Linked DNA regions of Homo sapiens. The protein of the gene in region 1 purifies or fractionates together with the protein of each later gene. This does not show direct contact. Each region holds a gene or a part of one and is shown on either strand. Other genes may lie near its edges. The genes, in order: MYL10 and MYO19.

The links.
Region 2: the proteins of MYL10 (region 1) and MYO19 purify together in Homo sapiens (affinity purification with mass spectrometry; 3 studies listed by BioGRID and IntAct, with this or other methods). This does not show direct contact.

The regions. Positions count from the first base shown.
Region 1 is NC_000007.14:101,607,522-101,622,297, reverse strand, and holds the end of MYL10 (myosin regulatory light chain 10), read left to right. Parts: intron 1-97; coding exon 98-202; intron 203-5,999; coding exon 6,000-6,078; intron 6,079-8,587; coding exon 8,588-8,636; intron 8,637-8,724; coding exon 8,725-8,823; 3' UTR 8,824-8,968; downstream 8,969-14,776.
Region 2 is NC_000017.11:36,489,613-36,504,921, forward strand, and holds the end of MYO19 (unconventional myosin-XIX), read right to left. Parts: intron 14,409-15,309; coding exon 14,338-14,408; intron 13,589-14,337; coding exon 13,485-13,588; intron 12,350-13,484; coding exon of another isoform or gene 12,330-12,349; exon of another isoform or gene 12,247-12,329; intron 11,624-12,246; coding exon 11,457-11,623; intron 11,348-11,456; coding exon 11,218-11,347; intron 9,701-11,217; exon of another isoform or gene 9,549-9,700; coding exon 9,463-9,548; exon of another isoform or gene 8,948-9,462; coding exon 8,654-8,947; exon of another isoform or gene 8,155-8,653; coding exon of another isoform or gene 7,994-8,154; intron 6,795-7,993; coding exon 6,639-6,794; 3' UTR 6,024-6,638; downstream 1-6,023. Other genes in the region: ZNHIT3 (zinc finger HIT domain-containing protein 3), read left to right, coding at 3,201-3,287, 4,314-4,394, 5,611-5,792. UniProt on the Homo sapiens protein: Actin-based motor molecule with ATPase activity that localizes to the mitochondrion outer membrane. Motor protein that moves towards the plus-end of actin filaments. Required for mitochondrial inheritance during mitosis.

The DNA.
Region 1 (14,776 bases):
ACGTGGAGCAGCTGAGTGGGGAGGCTTTGTGGGATCCTCCGAGGCCCAAGCTCTGATCTCTCTTATCCTCCCTGCCCCCACCTCTCACCTCCCACAGGCCGCATCAATGTCAAGAACGAGGAACTGGAGGCCATGGTGAAGGAGGCCCCCGGACCCATCAACTTCACGGTGTTCCTGACCATGTTTGGGGAGAAGCTGAAGGGTGAGCCAGGCTCCTGGAGTCCTGGAGGGGCAGCAGGGAATGGCAGGGGGACGGATGTAGGAAGGCAGGGGCCTGACACACATACACACCACAGGTGGGAGCATGATGTGGCCCCAGACACCAGCCCCCAGGTGCACGCACCTTCAGGGGCCCTGCCTCGGTTTCCCTCTCTTCACCGCAGACTGGGGTAACTATAAAGACCCCTGCCTTGGCCAGGCATGGTGGCTCACGCCTGTAATCCCAGCACTTAGGGAGACTGAGGCGGGCGGTTTGCTTGAGTCCAGGAGTTTGAGACCAGCCTGGGTGATATAATGAAACTTCATCTCTACTAATACAAAAATTAGCCAGACATGGTGACACATGCCTGTAGTCCCAGCTACTTTGGAGGCTGAGGTGGGAGGATCACTTGAGCCTGGGAGGTGAAGGTTGCAGTGAGCCGAGATCGCACCACTGCACTCCAGCCTGGGTGACAGAGCAAGGCCCTGTCTCAACAACAACAACAACCATAAAAACTAAACACTGCCTTTAACCCCTTTGCCCACCCATCCCACTGCCCCCAGCCATGCTGCCTCCCTACCTTCCTACCTGTGAGCTCCTTTTACCCGCTCTGCACATGGGGCTGGGGGTATAGGCAGAGGGTGCCGGAGGGAGGGTGTTTCCAAAAGATGCTGTGGTCGACCCCTGTGCAGGGCAAGTTACTCCCCTTGTCTTTTTCTGTGGTCACTGGAGCCCCCAGAGGAAGGATCGGGGAGCCTCATTCACAAATGAAGAGACTCAGATCCAGAGGAGTCACGACCCCTGCCCCAGATGCTCCAGCAAAAAGTGGCCGGGATGCAACCTCAACCCCAAACCCTGGCTCTAACCACTGTACCCGCCCGAGACACAGCATTAGGCATGGGGTGGAGGGTTGGAGCCATCTGTGTCTCCTTTCTGTCCTGGCCTCGGGGGAGCTCTCCCATAGTGACATCCTGGAGCTTGAGGGTTCCGTGGTCAGAAGGAAGGGCCAAGGCCGGGCACGGTGGCTCATGCCTGTAATCCCAGCACTCTGGGAGGCGGAGGTGGGTGGATCACCTGAGGTCAGGAGGTCAAGACCACCCTGACTAACATGGCGAAACACTGTCTCTATTAAAAATACAAAAATTAGCTGGGCATGGTGGTGGGTGCCCGTAATCCCAGCTGCTCGGGAGGCTGAGGCAGGAGAATCGCTTGAACCTGGGAGGCAGAGGTTGCCGTGAGCCGAGATGGTGCCATTGCACTCCAGCCTGGGTGACAGAGACAGACTCCACTACAAAAAAAAAAAGAAAAAAAAAAAAAAAAGGAAGGGTCAGCCCAGGCAGTGGTCCCTGGGAAGTGAGCACTGTCAGCTCTGCACCCTCAGGCTGCCCCTGCCAGGCCCCCTCCCTTGAACCCCCTGCCTTGGCTAGGCCTAGGGTCAGACCCTGGCTTCCCATTGACTCCTAGGTTGACCTTGCACAGATTTATCTGCTTTCTGGCCTCAGTTTTTTGGTCTGTAAAATGGGCTTATAATAGTTTTCTGAGCCCGCTGTAACAAATTCTGTGAAACCAGGTGGCTCAAAACAACAGACATGTATTCTCTCACAGTCCTGAAGCCCAGAAGTGCGAAATCTGGCAGAGGATTTGGGGAGAATCCGTTGTCTCTCCCAGCCTCTGGTGGCTCTACCTCTCCCATCTCAGCCTCGCCGTCAATGGCCCCGCCCTCTTCTATTTAACCTCCCTCCACCTGCCTCTTTGTTTATTTTGTTTTGTTTTTGAGATGGAGTCTCACTCTGTTGCCCAGGCTGGAGTATAATGGCGCCATCTCAGCTTAGGACAACCTCCGCCTCCAAGGTTCAAGCGATTCTCACGCTTCAGCCTCCCAAGAAGCTGGGATTACAGGCACCCGCCACCATGCCCCGCTAAATTTTTTTGTATTTTTAGTAGAGATACCGTTTCACTACATTGGCCAGGCTGGTCTCGAACTCCTGACCTCAAGTGATCCGCCCATATCCGCCTCCCAAACTGCTGGGATTATAGGCATGAGCCCTCGCGCCTGGACTCTACCTGCCGTTGGATTCAGGTCCTACTGGGATAATCTAAGATGATCTCTGCATCTCAAGATGCTTAACTTACATCTGCAAAGTCCTTTTTTCCAAATAAGGTGACATTTGCAGGCTCTGGTGGACATATCTTTTTTTTTTTTTTTTTTGAGACGGAGTCTTGCTCTGTCACCCAGGCTGGAGTGCAGTGGTGTGATCTTGGCTTACTGCAAGCTATGCCTCCCGGGTTCACGCCATTCTCCTGCCTTAGGTTCCCAAGTAACTGGGGCTACAGGTGCCTGCCACCACGCTCGTCTAATTTTTTTGTATTTTTAGTGGAGATGGGGTTTCACTGTGTTAGCCAGGATGGTCTCGATCTCCTGACCTCGTGATCCGCCTTCCTCGGCCTCCCAAAGTGCTGGGATTACAGGCGTAAGCCACCGTGCCCGGCCTCTGGTGGACGTCTCTTTTTAGGGGCCACCATTCAGTCCACCACAGGGTGATCCGACCTGACATCACAGGTTTGATGGGGTGAAAAATCAGTACTGTCATGGGTCGTGACCTGCTGTGGGGTAGAGCAGCCTCCACGCACCGTGTCCTGGCAGATCCAGAGCCAGAAGGAAGGCAGCCATCAGCCTGGGTGCGAGAGATGAGGAAACCCAGGGCTGGGGAGGGCAGGCTCATCTGGAGCAGGCTTTGAACTTGGGGCTGTGTAGCCGAATCAGGAGCATCACTGGGCCCACCTCCAGGCAGCTTGTCGGGGCCTATTCCCAGGACCATGTGCGCCTCCTGGAAGAGCTCAGAAGCCCAGGAGGCCGGGAGAGAAGAATGCTCTGTGGAAAAGACATGTGTGACTCCAGCCAGCAACTTCAAAGGAAGCAGACAGGCCTGATTCTTTTATCCACAGGCACATAACTGAAGGAGGCGTGTTAAAGGCCAGTGGGAGGGCCTGGGGAAGTGGCCTGTGGTTCTGCCAGGGTGGACGGCCCAGGGCCGGGCCCAGGAGGTGAGGCTGTGAGCACCTCCCGCCCCTGGTGTTGGGCATGGGCGAGGGGCCCTGCTGCCAGAGCAGGAGTTTAGAGAGACCTCCAAGAGTGCTCAGGGGAAGGGGAGGGGACTCTGTCAGCTCACAGTGGGCCCCAAACCTGTTTCGCAGATGGGAAGATTGAGACTAAAAGCTCGTGTCGGTCCATGGTTGAGCTGAAGCTGTGATCCAGGGCCTGGTGTGGGCTGCAGGGCTGCAGCTTTTTCTCATTTTTGCAGGGGCGCCGGGACTGGGGCTCCGGCTGAGCCTGTCATGCAGACGTGGCCAGACTGCGTGAGAGGCTGGTGGGAGGGGACAGGAGCCGGGAGGGCAGGGTGCTGGGGCCGGCGCCGCCTCACCCCGCTAATTGGGAAGAGGAGACTGTGTCATGAGATTCCCAACGATGATGGGAGGAAGTGGCCACTCTATAGCAGATTTTATGAGGTTTGCAGTCTCAAGAACAGAGGCTCTTTCTGGGGAGGAGAGAAGGGAGGACTGCCAGCCACGGTAACAGGGAGTGGCAGGGCTGCGCTGGGTGCCTAAATCCATGTGCATTGTCCGCAGGGGGATAGGCTGGAGCCGGCCACAAACCTGCCTCAGCAGTGAGGCCTCTTCAAAGACGTTGGGAATTTTCAACTAATCAGTGAAACCTGGGAGGCTGTGGCCTCGGAGGCAAATCCCACATGGGTGCCCCACGTGATGCTCTGGTCACTCAACCCTCACCCGCCTAGAGGCACCTGCTACCCCCTGCCTGCTTGGCCAGGCTGTGAGGGCCTGGAGCCCTGCCCTCGCTGCACCCTGGGCTGAGCCTCTCTGCTGGGCACACCAGCTCCCTGCCACCCTGCCCAGAGGCAGTCCATGGCGCTGCCCTCTAGGAGTTCCCAGGCCAGCAAGGCCAGTGTGTGCCAGGTTTTTTCACTCTGTGCCAGTTTCAGAGATGCCCAGAGACTCAGACACTGCCCAGTCCTGGCTAGTTCCTAGTCCGATGGGGGAGGCACAGATGGCCCTGACCCAGTCTGATGGGAGAGGCACAGATGACCTTGATCTGGTGTGATGGGGGAGGAACAGATGGCCCTGACCCAGTCTAATGGGGGAGGAACAGATGAGGCCCTGATCTAATCTGAGGGGGGAAGCACACTTGGCTCTGACCCAGTCTGATGGAAGAGGCACAGAAGGCCCTGATCCAGTCTGATGGAAGAGGCACAGATGGCCCTGACCCAGTCTGATCGGGGAGACACAGATGGCCCTGATCCAGTTTGATGGGAGAGGCACAGATGACCCTGACCCAGTCTGATGGGGGAGGCACAGATGAGGCCCTGATCTAATCTGATGGAGGAAGCACAGATGGCCCTGACCCAGTCTGATGCAGGAGGAACAGATGGCGATGACCCACTCTAATGGGGGAGGCACAGATGGTCCTGACTTAGTATGATGGTGGAGGAACAAATGGCCCTGACCTAGTCTGATGAGGGAGGCACATGGCCCTGGCTGACCTAATCTGACTGGCAAGAGCACAGGGTGACAAAAGGAGCAGGGGACTCTGGAGTCCACAGAGGTGGGTTTAAATCCTCCCTTCTCTTATCAGTGGGGACTTGGGCAAGTAATGAAACATCTCTGAGCCTGTTTTTTCTATGATAAACCAAGATATCCACATCTACTCCATGGGTGCTCTCAGAGCTCCAGGGGATAAAATCTTAAAGCTGCAGGCATAGAGCGCTCAGATGTATTTGCAGCCCTGATCAACCCATGTTCGTTAAAACCTTACCATGAATGGTATGTTATCTTAGCTGCTCCTGTGAGGTGGGTAGCAAGCACCATCTCTGTCCCCTTTCACCAATGACACATTTGAGCACTGAAGAAAGGAAGGGGGCACCCCCGCATCCACAGTGAACAAGGGGGACATGGTGACAGAAGGGGAAAGGGCACCGGGCGAGGGTGGCCAGGTCACCTGCTGTCATTCACGCAGCCCGTGAAGCCTTGGGCAAGACCCTTCCTCTCTCTGGGCTTCAGTTTCCCATTGGTGCAATGTGGGGGCTGCACATTCAATCCCATTGTGGGTATCAGATTAATTTCTTCTAATGACATCTCTCCCCAAGGCTGTGCTGTGACCGGGATAAAAGCAGAACTTCTCTGGCTTCACTTCTGCCCCCGTGAATCCCTTCCCTTGGCCTGTTGGCCCACCTGCCCCACTTCTGGCCGGGACAATCTCTCTCAGACCCCTCCAATGCCACACTGCCCAAGCCCCAGCCTTTTGGCATCCACGTACAGAACTCTTTTTCCTCCACCCACGGCCTCTTGTGCACAGCTTGGGTAACACGTGAGCCCCAGAGTCATGCCCCCTCACCCAGACCACTGGTCATGCAGCTGTGAGACCCTGGGCAAGTCACTTAACTTCTCTGGGTCTCAGCTTTTCCATCTGTAAAATAGGGAAGGGCTAAGCACAAATTAAATGCTCAATCAGGGTCTCCGTGTACAGTTGCTCAGGTTGTTCACAAAATATATATATGTGGTACCCTTGTCTATGATTACAATTACCTGTTTCCCTCCTTGTTCTTGCTTCAAGTGAGCTCGGCCCTCGCTGTGCAGTGAAAGTTGGGGAAGAAGTTCCCCAGAGCTGTGCCTCTGTGCAGGGGCCGTGGGACTTGCCCCCAGCCCCAGCCCCTGCCCAGCCTTGTGCCTGTCCCTGTGGGGCCCTCTTCACCTGCCTCTCTCCCTGCCCTGTATGTGCTGCTTATAGGCACGGACCCAGAGGAGACCATTCTCCACGCCTTCAAAGTGTTCGACACTGAAGGGAAAGGTTTCGTCAAGGCCGATGTGTAAGTTTCCCCTGACTCCCCCAAAATGCTCAGGGGAATAAGCCAGCTTTGGGCTGGGGTCAGGGTGGATGGTCGCCCAGTCTCCTCTCCCAGAAGCCAGGAGCTGGGGGGCCGCTGCCCAGCCCAGTGATATCGCTTGATGTCCCTTCCCCTCTCTGGGCCTTGGTGTCCCCTTCTCTATGTGTGCGTGGAAGTAGAAATGGATAAGAAATGGTGGGTCAGGCTGGGCGCGGTGGCTCACGCCTGTAATCTCAGCACTTTGGGAAGCCGAGGTGGGCAGATCACTTGAGACCAGGAGTTTGAGACCACCCTGGCCAACACAGCAAAACCCCATCTCTACTGAAAATAATAAAAAAAATTAGCCAGGCATGGTGGTGCATGCCTGTAGTCCCAGCTACTCTGGTGGCTGAGGCAGGAGAATCGCTCGAACCCAGGAAGTGGAGGTTGCAGTGAGCCGAGATCACGCCATTGCACTCCAGACTGGGCGACAGAGTGAGACTGTCTCAAAAAAAAAAAAAAAAAGAAGAAGTGGTGGGTCACTCCAGGAGAGCTTCCTAGTGGGGTGGGTGTGGGGGCAAAGGCAGATCTTGAAGAATGACTGCAGGTTGCCCAGGCTAGGGGGGGAACAGCATTCTAGATGAGGGAACAGAGAGCTTGGAGGGCCAGGGCTTGGCATGTGCATGTTTGTTCAGAGTTGGCTGCAGCTGGAGGGTGCGGGTGGAGGTGGTGTAGGGGAGACTGAGCACAGAGCGGCAGGCGGGGCCTCTGGGGGAGCGCTCACACCCTAGCCCCTGGACCCTGCGTCTGCCCTGGGAGCATGGGAGAACCTGAGGAGGAGTTAGGCAAGGACACCATGGAGGCCAGCCTGGAGAAGGAGAGGAGAGGGTTGCAGCTCCCAGGAGGGTCATGGCCGTCGAGATGGAGTCGGGCGGACAGATAAGCAAAGAGCCAGGGGCCAGTGCCCATAGGATCCAGGGTCTGGGGAGAGGACTGAGCCAGATCGTAGCCAGCACCGCCTCGGGCAAGAGGGCAGTAAGGATTGGGGAAAGTGACCAGCTCACTTGGAATGCATGAAGGGGAAGTGGCTGCAGGCAGCTGTCTGGCAGGCACCGGGGCTGCCATCATGAGGGTAGGGGTGCCCCACCCAGTGACAGCAAGGGAACAGAGAGCCAAGAATTGCAGGCAGGAGTGGGCGGGGGAGTGGCAGCCTTCCCAGGACCCAAGATTCAGGGCTGACCTCTGAGCTGTGCCGACGCAGTCCCTTCAGAACCTTGCTGGACCTGAGGGTGGCCTGGGGCAGGTGAGATTCCTCCCCAGGCCCAGGCTTCCTGATCAATTACTGTAATGCTGCCAGCCTTCATTTTGAGGCTAGTTTTGCTGGTTTTGAGATTCTCGCATCTCAAAGGGAGAGGGCAGACGCAGCAGGGGTGGAGGTGGAGAGGGTCTGTCCCGTCTCACACATTCTCAACTCCAAGACCATGAGTCACATACTCCCCTGGGATGGGGAGGGGATGCTGAGGGTTGCTGCAGTCCACAGTCCTCCCCTTCACCCCTCCCTCGGGGTCTGTGGCTCCTACCTCCATCCTGGGGACCTGGGGAGGCATCAGAGTCACCCCCGGAGTAACCCCAAGCCCTCCCTCTACTGTCAACCACTTTCTCTCTCACCAGTGCAAGGACAAGGCTGGGAAGACCCTTTGGGGACCTAATTTGGGAACTGAAGGCACTGCCTTGGGACATGGGACCTGGATCTGTGGCTGCAGGCCAGGCAGGCCAGACAGGCCACGGTGGAGGCTCTGGTTGAAACAGAGTCTGTGAAAAGTCCCCGGCTTGGAGAGCTGGAAACTGTGACTGTCCCACAGAAACATAAATAATGGAAAATGTGCATTGGTCCTTAGCGAGGCCTGCCGCAGCCGGTGCCAGAGGACACTCTGGGTGGACGAGGCCCCACTCAGCCGTCTGATCCCATCTTTGCCCACTGAGCTCCCTTAAGAACCCTGCAGGACCCTCCAAGCTTGAGGGGGCAGGCCCTTGCAGGCCCAGGAGGACACGGACCTGGGCAGGCCTTCCTGTACCCTTGGCAGAGCACAGGCATCTTGTCTCTAAAACACTATGCAGGTGTCAGTGAACGTCACAAGCTGGAGGAAAGAGTGTGTCCAGAATCAGGCAAAAGAGGCTCTGCGGTGGGGGACCTGAGGTGTCTCCCCTCAATGATCCAGAGCTTGATTATAGTGCATGATGGGAAATCAGAGTAGCCCTCATGGTGGGGTCCCCAGGTCATTGCTTTTGGTCCCTACCTGATGCTGGGAGGAAAGCCCACTTCATGGAGGAGAAAACCGAGGTTCAGAAGCTACTTGGCCATCGGGGGGGCTGGCAGGGTCAGCCCCAGGTTGATGTCCTCCTGGTCCAGGATGTCCCCCTGCCCCCACTTGCCCCTCATCACCCCTGGGATCTGCATGTTCAAGCTGGGTATCCCGTTCCCTGAACATGACTGTGTCTCTCCCTTGAACAGCATCAAAGAAAAACTTATGACCCAGGCAGACCGCTTCAGTGAGGAGGAGGTAAACTGGGATTCTGGTGGGTCACGGCGGATTCTCTGCTCTGGCCCCCACTTGGCCTGGTGCAGGCTGACTCTCTGCTCCTTCTCAGGTCAAGCAGATGTTTGCAGCATTTCCCCCAGATGTGTGCGGCAACCTGGACTACAGAAACCTGTGCTACGTCATCACTCACGGTGAAGAGAAGGATTAGGGGATCACAAGTCTCCCCGACATTCAGGGGCAGCAAACACTGTTGTGGGGTGTGACAGGGAGCTCTTGCAGCCAGAGGCTGCAGGAAAAAGGCTTCCCTTGTCCTACGGTTGGGGACAAAGCAAGAATAAATAATGCTAATGAGGTCTGAGTTTGTGCGGTAAATGCTCCAGCGAGGGAGAAAACGAAACATTCCTATCTTGTTGGTTTTTCCAAACCTTTTTTGTTCCTCTGGCTCTGCTCAAATGTTCCCGAGGAGCTGGTGTTTAGAGCTAATTGACAGTTTTAACGATTCCCTGCTAAGCCACGGGATATTGCCTTCATTTATGGAGCTTTTATTAAGCACCTAGTGCATGCCAGAGGCTGTGCTGGTCCCAGGGACTCTCAGAGGAGCCAGGACTGTCCCTGGGCAGGATATGGTGCTGACTGCAGTGAGGAAGGCAGAGGAGGGGGCAAAAAGTGGGGTGGGGACATCGGTGGGAGGAGAATGGAGAAGCACGGGAGAAAACTGGCTGCAAAGAGCTGGCTAGAGGTGAAGACGTCAGAAGGGAAGAGGTGGCTTCAAGGGATGTTTAGGGGGTAGGCAAGGATTTCTTAAATGGGACACACATAACTGTGATCATAAAAGTGGATAAGTTGGACTTCATCAAAATTAAAAACTTCTGCTCACCAAAAGATACAGTTAAGAATGCAAAAAGGCACCGGACGAGAAAAGATACTGGCAACGTAGATCATGACAAGATCTCATATCCAGAAGATGTATTTTTTTAAAATCCTACATATCTATAATAGAAAGATTATAACCCCAAAAAAGGTAGACGACAATAATAATATCCAAATGGCCATAAAGATCTGAAAAGAGGCCGGGCACAGTGGCTCAGGCCTGTAGTCCCAGAGCTTTGGGAGGCCGAGGCAGGAGGATTGCTTGACGCCAGGAGTTTGAGACCAGTCCCAGCAACATAGCAAGACCCCATCTCTACAAATAAAAAAAAATTTAAAAATTAGCCTGGCATGGTGGCGCATGCCTATAGTCCCAGCTATTCAGGAGGCTGAGGTGGGAGGATCACTTGAGCCCAGGAGTTGGCGGCTGCAGTGAGCTGTGATCACACCACTGCACTCCAGCCTGGACGACAGCGAGACCCTGTCTGAAAAAATAAATAAATAAATAAATAAATAAAAATAAATGATAGGGCACTCATACATGGGAATACCACATGGCAATAAGAACAAACTACTGATGTACACAACAGTTTGGTTGATTGCTCATATATACTATGTTGTATGGAAAAAGAGGCGAAAGAGTGCATACTTAAAAAAAAACTTTTTTATTGAGATACAATTCACATACCATAAAACCCCCCCCTTCTTTTTTGTTTTTTTTTAGACAGTCTCACTCTGTCACCCAGGCTGGAGTGTAGTGGCGTGATCTCGGTTCACTGCAACCTCCGCCTTCCGGGTTCAAGTGATTCTCCTGCCTCAGCCTCCCAAGTAGCTGGGATTACAGACACGTGCCACCATGCCCGGCCAACATTTGTATTTTTAATAGAGACGGGGTTCTGCCATGTTGGCCAGGCTGGTTTCGAACTCCTGACCTCAGGTGATCCAACCGCCTCGGCCTCCCAAAGTGCTGGGATTACAGGTGTGAGCCACCGCGCCCTGCCTTTTACCACTATTTACAAACAGAATATTAATCACCACAAAATGAAATTCATTAGTGGTCACTCCTTATTCTTCCTGCACTCAGCCCCTGGCAACCATGAAGCTACTACTGCCCGTCTCTATGGATTTGCCTGTTCCGGACATTCATATAAATAGGATCCTGCAATACATGGCCTTTTGTGTCTGGCATCTTTCACTTAGCATAACATTTTCATGGTTCATCCTTGTTGTAGACTTTATTTGTTTATTTATTTATTTATTTTTGAGACAGGGTTTCACTCTTGTTGCCTAGGCTGGAGTGCAGTGGCATGATCTTGGCTCACTGCAACCTCTGCCTCCTGGGTTCAAGTGATTCTCCAACCCCAGCCTCCCGAGTAGCTGAGATTACAGGCGTACGCCACCACGCCTGGTTAATTTTGTATTTTTAGTAGAGAGAGGGTTTCACCACGTTGGTCAAGTTGGTCTCGAACTCCTGACCTCAGGTGATCCATCTGCCTCAGCCTCCCAAATTGTTGGGATTACAGGCATGAGCCACCACACCTGGCTTCATTCCTTTCTGTAGCCAGATAAGATTCCATTTTATGGATAGATCACATTTTGTTTATTCATCAGTTGATGCACATTTGAGATATTTCTGTTAGCTATTATGGATAACGCTACTATGAACATTTGTGTACAAGTTTTTGTGTAAATACATGTTTTCAATTCTCTTAGGCATATACCTAGGAGTGAAATTACTGGTTCATATGGTAACTCTATATTTAACTTTCTGAGGAATTGCCAAATTGCTTTTCAAAAAGGTTACACCGTTTTGTATTCCCACCAGTGATGTACAAGGGTTTCAATTTTTCCACATTCTTGCCAACACTTGTTATTTTCTGTTTTTCTTTTCTTCCAAAATTATAACCATCTTAATGGGTATGAAGTGGTATTTCATTTGGGTTTTGATTTGCATTTCTCTAATGGATAATGACATTGAGCATCTTACCATGTTTTTATTGGCCATTTGTATCTCTTGGGAGAAATCTGTTCAGGTTCATTGCCCATTTTAAAATTGTGTTACACTTTTTTGTTGCTGAGTTTAGAAGTTCTTTATATATTCTAGATACTAGATCTTTTTATTTTAATTTATTTGTCTATTTATTTATTTTTGAGACAGGGTCTCACCCTGTCACCCAGGCTGGAGTGCAGTGGCACCATCACAGCTCACTGCAGCCTCAATCTCCCAGGCTTAAGCAATCCTCCCACCTCAGCCTCCCAAGTAGCTGGGACTATAAACATGAGCCACCCCACCTGGTTAATTTCTATATTATTTTATTTTATTATTTATTTATTTATTTGGAGAGCTGCCCAGGCTGGTCTTGAGCTCCTGGGCTCAACCAGTCTTCCCACCTTGGCTTCCCAAAGTGCTGGGATTACAGGCAAGAGCCCACCACGCCCAGCCTGGACCCTTTTAGATATGTGATTTGCAAATATTTTCTCCCATTCTGTAGGATGTCTTTGTACTCTCTTGATAGTGCCCTTTGATGTACAACAGTTTTACATTTTGATGAAGTCTATTTTAGCTATTTCTGCTCGTGCTTTGGGTGTTATATCTAAGGAACTGTTGGGCAGATGCAGTGGCGCATGCCTGTAACCCCGGCCCCTGGGAGGCCGAGGCAGACAGATCACATGAGGTCAGAAATCTGAGACCAGCCCGGCCAACATGGCCAAACATCATCTCTACTAAAAATACAAAAAAACTAGCCAGGCATGGTGGCACACACCTGTAGTCCCAGCTACTTGGGAGGCTGAGGCAGGAGAATCACTTGAGCCCAGGAGTTCAAGGCTGCAGTGAGCTGTGATTGCACCACTGCACTCCAGCCTGGGTGATAGAGAGAGATCCTGAGGCCCTGTATCAACAAAAAGAAAAGAAAAAAAAATAAAGAAAAGAAAGGAAAGGAAAGGAGGAAAGAAGAAAAGAAGGGAGAAGGGAGGAATGGAGGGAGGGAGGAATGGAGGAAGGGAGGCAGGGAGGGAGGAAGGGAGGGAGGGAGGAAGGCAGGGAGGGAGGAAGGGAGGGAGGGAGGAAGGCAGGGAGGGAGGAAGGGAGGGAGGGAGGAAGGGAGGGAGGGAGGAAGGGAGGGAGGGAGGAAGGGAGGAAGAGAGAAAGAAAGAGAAAGAGAAGAAAAGAAAAGAAAGGAGGGAAGGAAGGGAGGGAGGAAGGGAGGGAGGAAGGAAGACAGAGAAAGAAAGAAAAAGAAAAAAAGCAAGAGAGAGAGAAAAAGAGAGAGAAAGAAAGAAAGAAAGAGAGAGAGAGGGAGGGAGGGAAGGGAGGGAGGGAAGGAGGGAGGGAAAGGAAAGAAAAGTAAGAAACAAGAACCGAGTGTTTAAGGAAGAGAAGAGCAGGTCTAAGGTGTGACCCTGGAATCGGGTGGCTGAGGTTGGGGGAGCAGGTCCCTGGAGCCAAGGATTGGAGGCTGTGGGTTGAGGGGTAGAATTCAGACCCTGAGAGGCCAGGAGGAAGGAGGCCAAGGAGAGTGGCATGTTGGACCCTGCAGAGGGCCAGCCCTGGCTTTGACGGTAGCTGCTTCACCACAGGGGCCACACTCCCCTACCCCTTGGCCACAGTGAAAGGTCTCCCCTCCTCTTTCCCCACTGCTGAGCTCCTGTTCCCTCTGTGGGAGGCGGGAGAGAGAAGCACCACCATCAGTCTGGAGCTCTGGGCTCAGGACACAGGGGACAGGTACATAGCAGAGGAGCTCCTCCCTCCACCCCAAGCCTGGCTCCGCTTGCTCTCCAAGACTTTGACTTTCCTAGAAATCACGGACCGAGCCCTGTCTCTGCTGCTGAGGAACTTGTCAGACCTGTTTGTGCCCCGCAGAACCAAGCCAGCGCCAAGGTACTGCAGGCCACAGGCATCTGCTTGCCAGCTGCTCCCTGCAGCTAGGCCTGCCCACCTGCAGGAGCCCAGCTCCTCCAAGACACAGGGCCAGCCGGTAGGGAAGGCCAGAGGGACTCCACGTCAGCTCAGAGAGGAGGCCGGGGCATTCATCTCATTTATTCCTCTGTCCTCAGTGCCTCCACTTGTCTATACCTCCTCTGTACCAGTGCTCAGAGAGGGTGATCAATAACACCAGTAACACCTCACCTCTGCCCTCAATGGTCTCTGGCTGGGAGATACCAGGATGGGGGTAGGCTACAGGCATGGGAGTGATGCGGCACAAGTGGGGCCCCAGGGAAAAGAAAAGCAGGGGGCCTCTCAGAAGGCACAAGATGGCTGTGAGGCTGCTGGCGGCTCCAACTCCCTGGTCTCTGCCACTCTTGGGAGTTACACAGCATGGCCTCCTGGAGGCCCCTCTCTCCCAAGCTGTGGTTCATTGGTGGTCTCCACTGCCCCTGACCTGGGCACATGACTAGCTGCCTTCAATATCCACGCCTTTCTGTCCAGTCCTTGAGGAATACCTGGATGACCCCAGGCTCTACAGTTCTTCCTCCCGTCCCTGTAGCTGGGGTAATCCACAGAGCTGCCCTTCCAGGGGTAGAGGGCTGAGGCTCCCAAAAGCCAGAGAGAAATCAGCAAGAATGAGCATGTGGGTGGACACATCGTCTTTCCAGTGTTCTTTCTGAAAGCACCTTTCTAAAGGTACAAGAACGTGGCGGGGTGCGGTGGCTCACACCTGTAATCCCAGCACTTTGGGAGGCCAAGGTGGGAGGATTGCTTGAGCCCAGGAATTCTAGACCAGCCTCAGAAACAAAGCAAGACCCTATCTCTAAAAGAAATAATAAAACAAAACAAAACAAACAAAAGAACCCCTTGCCGGCCTCTTGAACTTCCCTGCACCACCGTGCCCTGGGCTCTGGGTTCCAGCTGCACAGTTTCATTGGGGACCCTACGTTTCCTCCTGTTGCAGAGTCTTGCTCATGCTGCTCCCTCTACCTGGAACACTCCCTGCCCCCTTTGCCCAATCCCCCCTGCATTAGTCAGGGTTCTTAGAGGTAAAGAACTAATAGGATAGATATATAATAGGATAGGATATATATATATAAAATAGGATGTGTGTATATATATATATATATGGGAGTTTATTAAGTATTAACTCACAGGATCACAAGGGAAAGAATTAATGGGATATATATATATAGAGAGAGAATTATTATATATAAAGAATTATTGTATTATATATAATATATATAATAGGATAGGATATATGTAAAATAGGATATATATATAAAGGGGAGTTTATTAAGTAGTAACTCACAGGATCACAAGGGAAAGAACTAATAAGAGAGAGAGATATATATAGATTTATATA
Region 2 (15,309 bases), on another chromosome or scaffold:
GCTCATTTGCCCATTTTTTTTTTTTTTCTTTTTGAGACAGAGTCTTGCTCTTGTCGCCCGGGCTGGAGTACAGTGGCGCAGTCTCTGCTTACTGCAACCTCCGCTTCCAGGGTTCAGGTGATTCTCCTGCCTCAGCCTCCAAAGTAGCTGGGATTACAGGTGCCTGCTGGCTGATTTTTGTATTTTTAGTAGAGACAAGGTTTCACCATGTTGGCCAGGCTGGTCTTGAGCTCTTGACCTCAGGTGATCCACCTGCCTCGGCCTCCCAAAGGGCTGGGATTACAGGGGTGAGCCACCATGCCCGGCCCATTTGTCCACTTAATTTTTTTTTTTTTTTTTTTTTGGCTGTTGAGCTCCTTGTGTATTCTAGATATTAATCCTTTGTCAAGTGAATATTTTGCAAATATTTTCTCCCATCCTGTGGGTTGTCTCTTCATTCTATTGTTTCCTTTGTTGTACAGAAGCTTTTTTGTGTAATAGAATTCCATTTGCCTATTTTTGCTTTTCTTGCCTGTGTTTTTGAGATTTTATTCATAAAATCTTTGCCTAGACCAATGTCCTGAAGCATTTCCCCTGTGTTTTCTTGTAGTAGTTTCAGGTCTTACATTTAGGTCTTTAATCCATTTTGATATTTATATATGGTGACAGATAAGGATCTAGTTTCATTCTTCTGCATATGGTTATTCTTACAGTTATCCTATTTTTCCAGTACCATTTATTGAAGAGTGCTTTTTTCCCCAGTATATGCTCTTGGTGCCTTTGTGAAAAGTCAGTTGGCTGTAAATGTGTGAATTTATATCTGGGTTCTCTATTCTGTTCCATTGATCTATGTGTCTATTTTTATGCTAGTACCATGCTGTTTAGATATTATAGCTTTGTAGTATATTTCGAGGCCAAGTAGTGGTGATGCCTCCAGCTTTGTTCTGTTTGCTCAGGATTGCTTTGGCTATTGGGGGTCTTTTGTGGTTCCATATTAATTTTAGAATTTTTTTTTGACATTTCTGTGAACAGGATCATTGGTATTTTGATAGGGATTGCATTGACTCTAGATTACTTTGGGTAGTATGGTCATTTTAATATTTATTTTTCTTATTGGTGGATATTTACATTAATTTTGCCTTTGTTGCTGCTATAGGCAGTGTTAAAGTGGTATTTAATAAATAATTTTTATCAGAAATTTCTAATAGCCACATCTGTTGTACACTTTTCATTTGTCTTTTTTATTTTTTTGCAACAAAGTCTTGCTCTGTCACCCAGGCTGGAGTGCAGTGGTGCTCACTATAGCCTTGACTTCCTGGGCTCAGGCAGTCCTCCTACCTCAGCCTCCCAAGTAGTTGGGACTGCAGGCGTGTGCCACCATGCCTGGCTTATTTATTTTTAATTTTAATTTTTGTGGAGATGAAGTCTCACTGTATTGCCTGGGCTGGTCTTGAATTCCTGGGCTCAAGTGATCCTTCCACCTTGGCCTCCCAAAGCGTTGGGATTACAGACGTGAGCTACCCATGCTCAGCCTGTCATCTTTCTTGATTCCCATGAATATCTGCTGTGTTTGGCTTTTTCTTTCTTGATATTCTTTGGAGGCTGGGAAGATACCGCTCTGTGGTATTCTCTCCTCCCTTTCTCCCTTCGAAGTCCTAACCAGGCCTGACCCTGTTACAGCTTCTGAGGTCAGATGAGATAGGGTGCATTCAGGGTGGCTTAGCTGTAGACTCTCGTTTTCTTTTTTTTCCTTTTTTCGAGACAGGGTCTTGCTCTTTTGCCCAGGATGGAGTGCAGTGGTGTGATCACAGCTCATTGCACCCTTGGCCTCCTGGGCCCAAGTGATCCTCCCACCTTAGCCTCCTGAGTAACGGAGACAAACTTTATCTATTTTTCGTAGAGACAGGGTCTCACTGTATTGTCTAGGCTGGTCTTGGACTCCTGGGCTTAAGCAGTCCTCCTGCCTCAACCTCCCAAATTGCTGGGATTACAGGCAGGAGCCACTGTGCCCAGCTTCTCCTTCCTTTTGCTAGATCTCTCTCTTGAAATGTGGTCCTTGACTTTTATTCCTAGGTAGGTGATCTCTCTTTCACTTTAAACTTTTTTTTTTCTTGCTGACATCCAACTGTTTAGCTCCAGCCTCTTTTTGAGCACCTTAGACACAAATGTATTTTGGGGTCAGGTACAACCCAGAAAATTCACCTCTCCTTCAGTCCCTCCTGCTGTGTTCCTTACACATATAGCATAGCCGTAAAGTTAGACCCGGATTCCAAATCTGCCTCTGCTACTTACTAGCTGTGGACCCCAATGGACAAGTTTATTACAAGAAAATTTAATCCTTTCATCTGTAAGTGGAATTAACAGTCTCCATGTCATGGGGGCTTCGTAAAGGTTCATTGAGCCACTATGTATCTCACTGTGTACCTGGCACAGTGCTCGGCACTTAGTCACTGGCAGCTGTTGTAACTGCCACCTACATGACTAGAACCTTTCCGTAGCATATTGTCAAATCTACATTTTAAGTCTCTACAATCTGGTCCTGCCTTTATGTCCTCAGAACCCTTTCCTGTGACTTCATGCTCTGTTGATACTGTCACCCAGGCTGGAGTGCAGTGGCACAATCACAGCTCACTGCAGCCTTGACACACTGGGCTTAAGGGATCCTCCTGCCTCAGCCTCCCAAGTAGCTGAGACCACATGTGTGTACCACCATGCCTGGATGATTTTTTTTATTTTCTGTAGAGACATAGTCTTGCTAGGTTGCCCAGGCTGGTCTCAAACTCCTGGGCTCAAGTGATCCTCCCACCTTGGCCTCCGAATGTTAGGATTACAGGCGTGAGCCAGCACAGCTGGCCTTCTGTTGACTCTGTAAGTTCTTTGGTGGTTTTGCCCCTAGTTTTATCCCATCTGGTATCTGGTTTACAGCAGCTATTTCAAACACCTCAGTTAATTGTGGTGAGAATTTTGTAAGATTCGGCAGGGTAGGGAGGATGGGGACAGGTTCTTGGGGTGCATGAATGAGTCCTGCTTTCTCAGCCTGCTGGCGGTTTTCCTTAATCTCTCTCTTGCTTTGATCTCTCACTTCTTCCACATTCCTGGGCACCCACCCACATCCCTTACCCCAGACACTTGCTTCCTACCTAGATGCTACCTTGGTAGGGAGGTGCAGCCTTGTCGCTGAAATGGAGGTAATGTGGGCCTGGGATTTGTGTCTTTTTCAGAACAGTGCAACCCTGAAACTCGTCCTGTTGAGAAAAAAATAAGATCAGCTCTTCCTACCAAAACCGTAAAGCCTGTGGAAAACAAAGGTGGGTTGGTTGACTTCAAACAAATCTACAAGGGACTTCACATAGAATAAGTCGAAGGAAAAGGGGAGAGTGGGGCTGGTCAGGGAATCCAGAACAATAGCTTCATTGGGAAGGAACAGCTTCCTTAGCCTTGAGCATCAGGAGTGGGGCCATGTCATCATGGGTGATATTGAGGCAACAGCCTGAAAGCAGTATTCAGGAGAAGAAAAATGGGCAGAAGACAGAGATGAGAAAGGCCATGGCTGTGGTTTGGGGGTTTGCGGTGGGCCCTGCTGGCAGGAGCCTTCTCTAGCCCATAGCTGCTGGTCTCCCTCCATGAATCTGGCTGGGACTGTCAGTTCACCTGAACTCAGCCCAGGCAGGAGGCTTTCTTTGTCCTAGATCATCTCGCTGCTGCTGGGGGTTCAGAGCTCACAGCAGTAGTGGGCTGTCAACCCATCCGTCCAGCCATCTAAACGTTCTTTAATACCTCCTGGGTGTCAAGCACCATGCCAGGCTCTGAAAGCAGCCCCTCTGGTGCCACCAAAGAGGTATTGAACATTCACTCCAAAGGCATGGCCCATTTTTGCCCTTTGAGAAATTTCCAGGTTGGGTTCAGGCAATGCCAGCAGTTTCTGCCCATGCTGAAAGCACAGGAGATTCTACTTGGCTGGTTTTTACAGAGCATCCAGTTAATTGGCCCATCACAGGGTTGGAGCCATGTTGAGGTGGGGATGGGTATTAAGTTATTAGACAACCGGGGTCTAAGCCTAAAGACCACAGGACCACATATACAGTAAGGATGTGAACACTAGAGTGCATTTGTTAAAATCACCAATTCTTTCACTTAGCCTCCCTCTTCTAAAAAAGGAGTGTTAGTATAGTCACAGACTCCGGAGAAGAGGATTTTTGTCTGTACCTGCTTGAATACCCCTATCACTATCACATGTGCGTGCACACATTTTTATCCTGTTCAAGTAGTGGTTAAAATCTGGTGCCCAGGCCTCCTTTTTAGCCATGAGCCATTGACTGTTTTGTATTCCTTAGATGATGATGACTCTATAGCTGATTTTCTCAATAGTGATGAGGAAGAAGACAGAGTTTCTTTGCAGAATTTAAAGAATTTAGGTAAGTCTGTGCTATGCTTGTCAATCGTTGAGATACATTTACTGTGTTGTAAGGATTGTGATTTTTTAAAAAGTTTTTAATTTCTTGAATAAGTATGGCATGTAGGGCTCTTACTATCTAGCCACATAATCTGTAAACATACAGGGTTTCACACCTCCCAGCCTGCCCACACCATTCCTTCTGCCTGGAATCCTGCTGGTCTTGTGGGTTGGCAAAATTCTGCTCCTCCTTCAAGCCTTGGTTCAAGTTTTCTTCACTCAGCTAAGCTTTTCTTGACCTTTTGTGTCTCTTTCAGAATTAGGCACTTTTTTGGTTTCCCATAGCAACTTGGACTTAATAGTAATAAATCACTGTTACATTTCATGGTAATTTGTCTCTCACATACCGATTTGTACAGCAGGGACCTGTATTCCCAGATCCCCAGTGCTCAGCTCACAGTCCAGCCCTTAACACAAACTGGTTATCACATGATTTGATTTAGGGGGAAACAGGTGTTGCCATTTTTGTAGCACTGCTTATTCAGTCCTTACAACATTCTGTTACATGTGCATGGGGTCTGTTAATTTCATTCTTCCCATTTCACAGAATCATGTTAAAAGGTTATGTTTTGCACTTAGTCTCATGGTAATGATTAGTTAGACTGAGTTTGGAGATGAGCTAGTAATAGGTGTGAAAAATTTTACAGACTGTGAAGTACCATGCAGGTATTATTGTTGGTTCCCTGCTACTGGTGCTGCTGCATGCCAAATGGCATGCTTAGACATCATTCAGATTATTTCGTATAGCCGTCTTCACCACTGGCAACTTTTATGGCTAGAAAGAAAGAAAACATGCCAGCAGCTTAATGCTACTATTTGCTTTGTGATTGTGCTGATAAAGCATTTTTTTCTTAGCTGAAGTGGCACGAAGTTACAATATTTACAAAGATACCAAGAACTGGTATCTGTTACTGCATTTAATGCGGAAATAGTTTGATATGCTGGTCTTACCTTTCATTTTATAGAGGTGGGGTCTCGCCATGTTGCACAGGCTGGTCTTGAACTCCTGAGCTCAAGCAATCTGCCCACCTTGACCTCCCCAGTTGCTGGTATTACAGGCATGAGCCACCACACCTTGCTGATAGTTTTATTACACTTGAAATAGCTCTTCACTTTTCAGCCATCTCCATGTGTTTCCACTTGAACTCAGACTGGCTTTTTTTCTTGTTAATTTTTAGGGGAATCTGCAACATTAAGAAGCTTATTGCTCAATCCACACCTCAGGCAGTTGATGGTCAACCTCGATCAGGGAGAAGACAAAGCAAAGCTCATGAGAGCTTACATGCAAGAGCCTTTGTTTGTGGAGTTTGCAGACTGCTGTTTAGGAATTGTGGAGCCATCCCAGAATGAGGAGTCTTAAGATGGATTATTGTGCTGCTTGCTCAAGCGTGTGCTTGACTCCTGGAACCTGCCTGCTCCCTCTCCCAGACCAGCTAGTTTGGGGCTGGGGAGCTCAGGCAAAAGAGGTTTCCAGGATGCAGATTAGGTCATGCAGGCCTTTACCGGCATTGATGTGGCTCATGTTTCAGGCAGACTTGGGGTCCTTAAGGTGGCAAGTCCTTTATGGAGAGAAAACTTGACATTCAGATGATTGTTTTTAAATGTTTTACTTTTGGTACAGTTGATAGACATCATAAACGATATCAAGCTTACACTTCATATGGAGTTAAACTTGGTCAGTGTTAATAAAATCAAAACGTGATTCTACTGTACATTGCATTATTCATAATTTAATTGTTTGAAATTACATTAAATAAATCAACTAATTAAATACTAAAGTTTTGTTCCTTTTTAAAGGAAATAACCACAAGATTTTTCCCAGCCCAAATTCCAGCGCCAATTTTAGGCCAACTTTGGCTGTTTTCTTCCAAAAGTGCTTATGTGGAATTGGGATCCCCAGTGTAGTGACAGACAGTCATGACTGCTGCTGAGTTTGATCTGTGAAGGTAGTGAAATGTGGCCCTGATGTTTCTTAACCCTGATTTGGTAACTACCAGCCCTGACACCATCAGTGCTTGATGTAGCCTGGAACCCCAGGCCCACTGACGCACTGGGCACGGGGCTCTGGGTCGAAGGCTGGAGCCGTCACTGTTGTTCATGTGCATTTGGAGCACTGTGGGAATAGTCTGGCAGCTGTGTGCTGATTAAATGTCTTTGGCAAGGCAGGGGGCAGGAAAAGGCCTTGTGGAAACAAAGGCACCAAGGATCACCCCAGCCCAGTGAAGGCAGAAGAGGTCACGTGGATCAGCCTGTGTCTTTCCAGCAGAATCTGATTAAAGCCTGTAATGCTGTAGGGTGAAGGTTCAGGGCAGATGTCAGCATACCGCAGTGGAGACTTTCTGCAGTGAAACTTTATCGATCCCTAGAGGGGAGAGAGAGATGCAGCTTTAGCACTAGTTCCTGGGAGTGCCAGGGCCTAACAACCCCACAGAGCAGACGCTAAAAATGCAAGAAGGTATGGACAAGTACTAGTATTGGGGGCCACAGCAGGATTAAAATAGCATTACATCCACTCAGTGTGAGACAGATGAGGAAACCCTAGGAGGAGGCGCTCCCTAAGAGGAATGTCTGTCACATTCCTATGACTGCTTAAAGCCAGAAGGGCAAAACATTTACCCTTCTGTTTAGCAGGCCTGTGTGTTTTCATGGGAGACTTCATCCAGATTAAGGCCTATAGTTATTCCTCTGAATGGAAATTTGGTGTTTCCTTCTGCCTTGTCATTTCACTTACTCCTTGCTGTGACTCCATGCAGTAGGTTGAGTATTAGCCCATTTTATAGACAGGCTCCGAGAAAATGTGTCTTAGCCAAGATCATCCAGTGAATGGGGCAGAACCAGGATCCAGACCCTGGGGTTCTACCTCCCAGTGCAACATACTTTCACCTTTCCTCGGCCACTTTAATTCTATGAGGCCTGGCTTACTGGGGTGACTCACAAAGCCCTGAGTGACAATGACTTCCTGAGTGTGCTGGCTGACTTTTCCCTGGATGCTTATATAAAAACAGCTGGGCACGGTGGCTCACACCTGTAATCCCAGCACTTTGGGAGGGCAAGGCAGGCAGACCACTTGAGGTCAGGAGTTTGAGACCAGCCTGGCCAATATGGCGAAACCCCGTCTCTATTAAAAATACAAAAAAAAAAATATAGCCAGGCATGGTGGCACATGCCCTGTAGTCCCAGCTATTCGGGAGGCTGAGGCAGGAGAATCGCTTAAACCCACTGCATTCCATCCTGGGCGACAGAGTGAGACTCCGTCTCAAAAAATTAAATAACATGAAAAAAAAAAAAAACCCACAGAGAACTTGGACCACTGACCCTGCTTGTCATTTCGTCAGCCAGAAAAGGAAAAAACCAAGCAATACAATTTGGGGAAAACATGGTGCCAAATCCAGTGCCATTTGAGGTAACAAACTCCTCACAACCCAAGTTGTGATGTGGGACTAATTAGATTATTTGCTCTCAAGTCTTGGGTAGTTTCTTTTTTGCTATGTCTCGTGAATTTTTCCTCTTTTCTGTAATTGACCTATTATTACCCTAAACCAAACTTTTTTTTTTTTTTAGATGGACTCTCGTCCTGTCACCCAGGCTGGAGTGCAGCGGCGCAATCTCGGCTCACTGCAACCTCTCCCTCCCAGATTCAAGCAATTCTCATGCCTCAGCCTCCCGAGCAGCTGGGACTACAGGCGCCTGCCACTACGCCCAACCAATTTTTGTATTTTTAGTAGAGATGGGGTTTCGCCATGTTGGCCAGGCTGGTCTTGAACTCCTGACCTCAGGTGATACACCCGCCTCGACTTCCCAAAGTACTGGGATTATAGGCGTGAGCCACCGCTCCAGGCCCTAAGCTAAACTTTCATCACCTCCTGCTCCTGACTCATCTAAAGCCTTGGTTCTCACAGTGTGGTTCATGGAGCATCAGAATCAGCTGGGAGCTTGCTAGAAACGCAGCATTGCATTTGGAAATGGGACTAGAAGATTTAGAGATGCTGAAATAATTAGAAGCAGTTTTTAAAAAGATAAAGGGCTCTGGAAGATTCCCAGTTATAACAAAATAAATAATCCAAACCTGCAGCTGATTGGGACATGCAGCCCTCTGGTTTACCCAGTAGGGTTAGGGATGGATCTTGTCCCAGCCTCAGTCTCATTCCCGCTGTGAACTTGTAGGCTTTGCTCCTGCTGTTCTCAGGAACAAAGCTGTCATGGCCATCACACACAACGTACCTGAGGCAGCGCTCGGATGGACGTGACACCAGCCTGGTCTTGTGCTGTCTGGACAGTGTAGCTACTGGGGCTGCCCCTGGGGAGCTGGAGGCAAGCCCAGACCACTAATTTCCTCTGAAAGCTGCCTACACCCATAGCCGTATTGGCCAGGACCAGTCCCAGGGGCCAGAGGCGGATTATTGCCTCCAGGAGCCTGGTCTGCAGCGGCGAGGTGCTCAGGGAACAGGGAGCTTGAGAGAAGTGTTTTTCTTCCACACCATCCAGCTCTTTAGCAGCAAGGCAGGCCATTCTGATCTTAAAAAGCAAATATCCCTTTATAGCTTTAGATTTATCTAGCCCTCTTAGCAGAAAATGGAAATCAAAACTATCTTTAACAAATCATCTTAACAAGGTGAACTGAAGGCACCTGGTTGCAAACAGCTGGCTGCCCTGAACCAAACTGGTTCCATATGCCACAAGTCTATACACCCCAGGCAACTGTGCTTAGGCCTTACATATGCTACTTGAAAACAAGATAAGAGTCCATCAAGATATAACTGATATGCCATAAAACCCAGTCTTCTAAAGTGTACATCCCAGAGTTTGGTATATTCCCAGAGTTGCTTATACCACTCTTCACCTACATAACCACCCTGCAGGGTAGGTGTTACTGTGCCCACTGCATACATGAGGAATATGAGGCTCAGAGAGGCTAAACAACCTGCCCAAGGCCACCTGCATTGCAGTGGCAGAGCCAGCATTCCCACTCGGGTCCATCTGGTCCCCAAAATTGATCCACTGCCCACCCCGACTTCTTGGGTCTTACTTACTCTCCACTTCTGCCATGCACGCTTGATGACTGTGGCAGCTGCATGCAGCCTCTGGATGTGTTTCCGAGTTAACCAGGAACGAATGGCTAAGAGGTTTGCCCAGAAACAGGAAAGAGATAATAAAGGGGCCATTAGAGCTGTCAGTGACCTCGCTGCAGCAGCACCACAGTTGCTGTCAAAGTTTCAAATACGTTTTTTTTTTTTCAATAAATTGCTACAAATAAGGTTCTAAAATCAATACATAAGGCAAAATTGGCTTTTAAACATTCCTTACACTGCCCACACACTTGAATACACCTACACAACACAGTGAAGGGGCACTGGGGAGAAGGACTGGCTGAGGGCCCAGCAATCACTTCCCGTCTCAGGCTGGGTCCAGGTCAGCACCCAGGGAATGGGAGGGGTCTGGATTGTCTGTGCCTTTAAAAACTTTTTTTTTTGTTTTGTTTTTAATCCTCAGTTGAATTTGTTCGCTTTATGCATCCCTGATCTCACATCACCATATACCCAAACACTGATACAATTAATAGATGGTGGTAATTTTTATTCCCTTCTCTGCAATTTCAGCATATTCTTTTTCTTTTTGTTTCTTTTTTTTTTTTTTTTTTTTTTTTTTTTTGAGACAGGGTCTTGCCCAGGCTGGAGTGCAGTGGCACGAACAGCTTATTGTAGCCTCCGTAAGGCTGTAGCTTCAATCTCCCAGGCTCAAGCAATCCTCTTGCCTCAGCCTCTGGAGTAACTGGGACTACAGGCATGTGCCACCAGGCACGGTTAATTATGTTTTGTTGTTTTTTTTTTTTTTGAGACAGAGTCTTGCTCTGTCACCCAGGCTGGAGTGTAATGGTGCAATCTCAGCTCACTGCAACCTCTGCCTCCTGGGTTGAGGTGATTCTCCTGCCTCAGCCTCCTGAGTAGCTAGGATTATAGGTGCATACTACCACACTTGGCTAATTTTTGTATTTTTAGTAGAGAAAGGGTTTTGCCATGTTGCCCGGCTGGTATGAAATTCCTGGGCTCAAGTGATCCTCCCACCTCAGCCTCCCAAAATGCTGGGATTACAGGAGCGAACTACTGTGCCCAGCTTCCTTATACAATTTTTTAATGCCTACACACACACAAACACACCTTAAAAGGAGGGCATCGCCCTTAATATGTAGTTTGACATCTAGGTATGAATATCATTTTGGAAGTGGTTCTCCATTAAATTTATAATATTCTTCAAAAACACTTAGCTGCATCATAGGGATGGTCCAGTCCATCATTTGGCCATGATGTCACCACTGTTAGATATTTGGGTTCTTTCCAACACTTTTCCTTTTCAAAATAAGACCACTATGAACATGTTGGTTAATACATCTTTTCATCTGATGAACTCCTTTTGGTTTTTACCTTCTCCTTAAATTCATTCCAGCCCTAGAGCCCAGCAGGTAATGGTTTGAGTTGTCATAAAGGGAAAAAAAGTTGGCCTAAACAGCTGTCAGGGTCTGAGAAAGGAATTAAAGACAACGCTTAGACAACGCTTAGCCTCCACTTCTTACAGAGCACCTTTGTTTGTGGAGTGACTTGGTTTCCATTGAACTGGAGAGACGTTATGAGTGAGGGGGACAGGGAATTTGAATCCCAGCACACCACAGGGACATCTCTTCAGGCTGGGACACAGCTTCAGGAGATGGGGACTCGACGAGCTATGTTTCAAAGGAAACCAACATCCTGTGGGGTCTGTGAGCAGTGCTGACAGGTGACCTGCCCACCTACCTGCCTGGATGAGCATGACGGCCCGCCACTGCCGCTCCTGCTCTCGGTGCCGGTGTCGCCTCCAGCCACCCTGGATGCAGCGGGCACACTGCTCCAGCACCCGGGCACGCCCACATTCCAGAAGCTCCAGCTGGGAGAAAAGGCATCCATTGAGGGCAGCCTCTTCTCCCCCTGCCCCCTCCTGCTGAGGAGAGCACACAGCTTGCCTCTGTAACCTCCTCATCCCCAAACCAGCTCACCATAGAGTCAGTCATGAACACCTTGGTCCTGCCACAGTGCATGGGGGCTGGCATGGCCTCAGCCGAGTCACCAGTTATGGCTGCTGCCTGAGTTAGGACCGGCAGAGTGTGGAGAATGTCCTGGATGAGAGGTTCAAGCGTGGCTTCCTCGCTGTGTGGACACCATTCTGGGGGAGGGAGATGGCCCCATCAGTGCATGGTCATCTCTACATGCCTCTGTGGCCTGAAGAAACTGGCTTTGGCCTCCCTAGCACTCTACAGGTCTCTTTCCTGCTGTTCTTGGCTCTAGCCATTTTCTCCTTGTTCTTCTTTTGGAGGAAGCCACAAACAGCCTCTCTGTTGTCCCTCAGGGTGCTAGCTGTTCCGTGGAGCCTTGGAATACCCACTTGCGCCTGTGTGTCCTGGGGTGTCCCACAGCCTCTACTGCCATGAGTCCCTTTGGGCAGGCTGGCAGAGGGTGCTTGACACCTGGAAGGGTGACTCCTTCCAAGCTTGGAATCCCAGGCTGCTCAGCCAGCATTTGTTTCCAAGGCCCAAACACACATCCTGAGGGCCAAATAGGGCAGCTATAGGCCACTCCCTCAGCCCCGACCCCTCAACTCCCCACCATGTATGGGAAAAGGGAGATCCAATCCCAGCCCTTAGTTTGGGAATCTTCTACTGCAAATAAAAAGAATAAATTAAAAAATAAATTTAAAAAATCCCAGCCCTGCAAAGGTCCCGTGTCCCACTGCCTGCCCTCCCGCAGCTCGCAGAGCTGACTCCTGGAGAGGTAGGATTTACCTGAGGGCTCTGACCACCTTAGATGCCCAGTGCCTCTCTGAAGACAGAGGCTGCCAAAGGAGACACCACAGATGAGAAACAGCAGCAAAATCAACCAGGGGCCAGAAGGGCTATGGGCAAGAGACACGGAACAGGACAGCAAACCATGGAGAGGGAGAAGAAAGGAGAAAGGGTGAAAGGAAAGTGAAAACTGCCCAGGAGGGGAGGAAACAAAGCAGGATTGCCCCAATGGCTGTGAGGGGCCCAGGGTAAGGCTGGGTGGGAGGGGCAGAGGTGCTGGGCTGGGGTCCTGCCGAGGCGGGGCCCCCCGGCAGCCTGTCCTTGGCCTGTTCTCCCTCTGCCTGTGTCTGGGCCCTGTGGCTCCCACAGCCTCTCTTTTATCTGCATGCCGACAACCCCCATATGAGGGCCTCCAGATCCTTCCTTTGAGACTAAAGCCTGCCTAAGTGCCTTGCAGACTTCTTCACTGGACCTGCAGGACAAGTCACCCATGCCCGGGCTCTTCAGCCTCCCTGAACCTCTTTTCCTCTTGCTTTTCCTCACTTCCCAGGCTAAGTTAATTTACTCCTTTCCTCTCCCTCTACATCTAGTCAAGCCCCTACCAAGACTGACCAGTTTCTTCCAACAAATATTTCCCGACTGTGCCCACAATTCTTGTTTCTCTCTATTGGGGCAACTTTGCAGCCTCAATCCCACAGCCCTCCATGGTGCCCCCAGAGTGGTCTCCAGAAAGTGTGAGGCTGATAAGAGTCATTTGCTCCTTCCCCTGCAGTGCCTGCTCATCTGCCCAGAGAATAAAGTCCAGATTCCTTGATGGAGCCCTACCTGCCACTCCAGCCTCACCTGCCCCAGTTCTCTGCCTCAATGAACCAGCAACACAGAACTGGCTGGAGTTCCTCATACCCACACTGCTGCCTCAAGCCTCTAGGCCTTTGTTCAGATTACATTTATCATGTGGACCACCCATCACCTGGCTAATCCAATTTATTCTCAGATACTACCTCTTCCAGGAAGCCTTCCCCAATTCACACCTCCCTAGCACCACCCACAGCATCCTGCTCATAGCTCTGCTTTTCCACTTTCCATGCTATTTGTCTTTTTTGAATCTGTTTCCCCCACTGAACCAAAACCAGGGCTGTGTTTTATTCACCAGTAAGCCCCAGCCCCTAGCCCTAAGACAGGGCACAGGGTAGATGCTCAGTAAACTGTGGTTGCACAAATGACTAACTCATGGGTCCCACTCACCAGGGAGCCCTTTGGCAGGATATGGGCTGTCGGGGCCAGAGGATGTGCAAGGATGAAGCCTTCTTAGTAACTTGTATCGTTCTACAAAGTTTCGGTGAGAGACCCTGGAGGCCAAAGCAGGCAGAAGTAGAGAATTACTTCATCTGTGAGCCAGGTTAACGGTTCAGGGCTCATCAGAAGTTATTCTATTTAATCTGCTCAACAACACAGCACGGTGCTGCCCTCCCCGAGTATCCCCACTGAATGTGAATGTGGTTTTGAAGCGATTTCTAGGATCACTTAGTTGGAAACCCATAAAGACTATTTAAAATGGGTCTGCTCTCCCTGCTGCCTTGGTCTACCAACACAAAGCATCTCTTGTGTTAGCAGGGGATTTGCGGGCTGCCTCCCTCCAAAGGGGCTGACAGGCCTCTCCCCAAACAATTGGACCAGTCCTATGACGCAGACATGCTTGGCCACATCTCCCCTCTGACCTCTCTGACCCCACAGTCTCCTCTGCCTCCCCCAGATCTCCCTGCTCCTCATCAAGGCAACACTTCTCAGACAGCTGCTGGCACCTGATATCTGCACTTCCTCCCAATTGCTTGTCAGCCCTCCTGAGTCTGGCTTCTGTCCCCAACATTGTACCAGTGTGGCTTTTGTCACAGCCATCAGCTGGGTACAAAATAGTGCACAATAAGTGAATGGATGAACGAATGGGTGCTGCTCCCTAGTTCCCAGCTGACTTCTACAGACCAGCCTCTTTCTCTTCATTTCCACATCTCACTCTGGGTTGGGCAGGCTCTTGCCCAATGAGAGTCCTGAGCCCCACTCTGTACTGGCCCTGCACTGTGCCGTGATCGAGCCCACTCACCGGATGGGGAAGCCAGCAGCACTGATATGGATGGTCTCCACGAGGCCACAGGCCTCCAGCTGGCTCAGGACCTGCAAGGGTGGGGAGACAGGGCAGGCACCTGCAGCATGGGGCCAGCAGGCCAGAAATGCCATTCTCTCAGCCCTTCTTCTTAGACCCTGGCCAGTGCCAAGCTGCAGGCTCTCCCAAGGCTTGGCTAATGGGGGTATCTCCTTGGGGCTGTGAGAAATCGAGGGACCTTGAAAACAAATCTCCCACTAGAAAGGGTCCTGGTGGTCCCAAGTCCCCCTCATCCGACGCATGGCTTCTGATACAGCTGAAGCAAGTGATGTCCTGGCTCCGTCTCACCCTGCCCTCAGTGTAGTCTCACTACCACACAACCCAGCCCAGGCAAATTTCCAGTTTGGATTGTTTTCACTGTCTGCAGGCATTAGAGGGTGGTTCACAGCTGAGAGGCAGGGAAGATTATACTATGAAGATTCTTCTGTGACCTGAACCCAGGTCTTTACCACAGAGCTGAGTTGTCCTGGCTACAAACCGGAAGGCCACATCTACCAGGCCACACCTTCAGCAGTGCCCAGCATTCACCCCTCATCCACATCCCTCAGAACCTGGAATCCCAAGAAAAGGGCAGCTGCTGGCTAGAGTGCTTTTGTTAGATTAGAAAAAAATGATACCGGCTGAGTGCAGTGGCTGCTCATGCCTGTAATCCCAGCACTTTGGGAGGCTGAGGTGGGCAGATCACCTGAGGTCAGGAGTTTGAGACCAGCCTGGCTAACATGGTGAAACTCCATCTCTACTAAAAATACAAAAATTAGCCAGGTGTGGTGGTGCATACCTGTAATTCCAGCTATTTGGGAGACTGAGGCAGGAGAATCACTTGAACTCGGGAGGCGGAAGTTGCAGTGAGCTGAGATTGCACCACTGCACTCCAGCCTGGGTGACAGAGTGAGGCTCAGTCTCAAAAAAAAA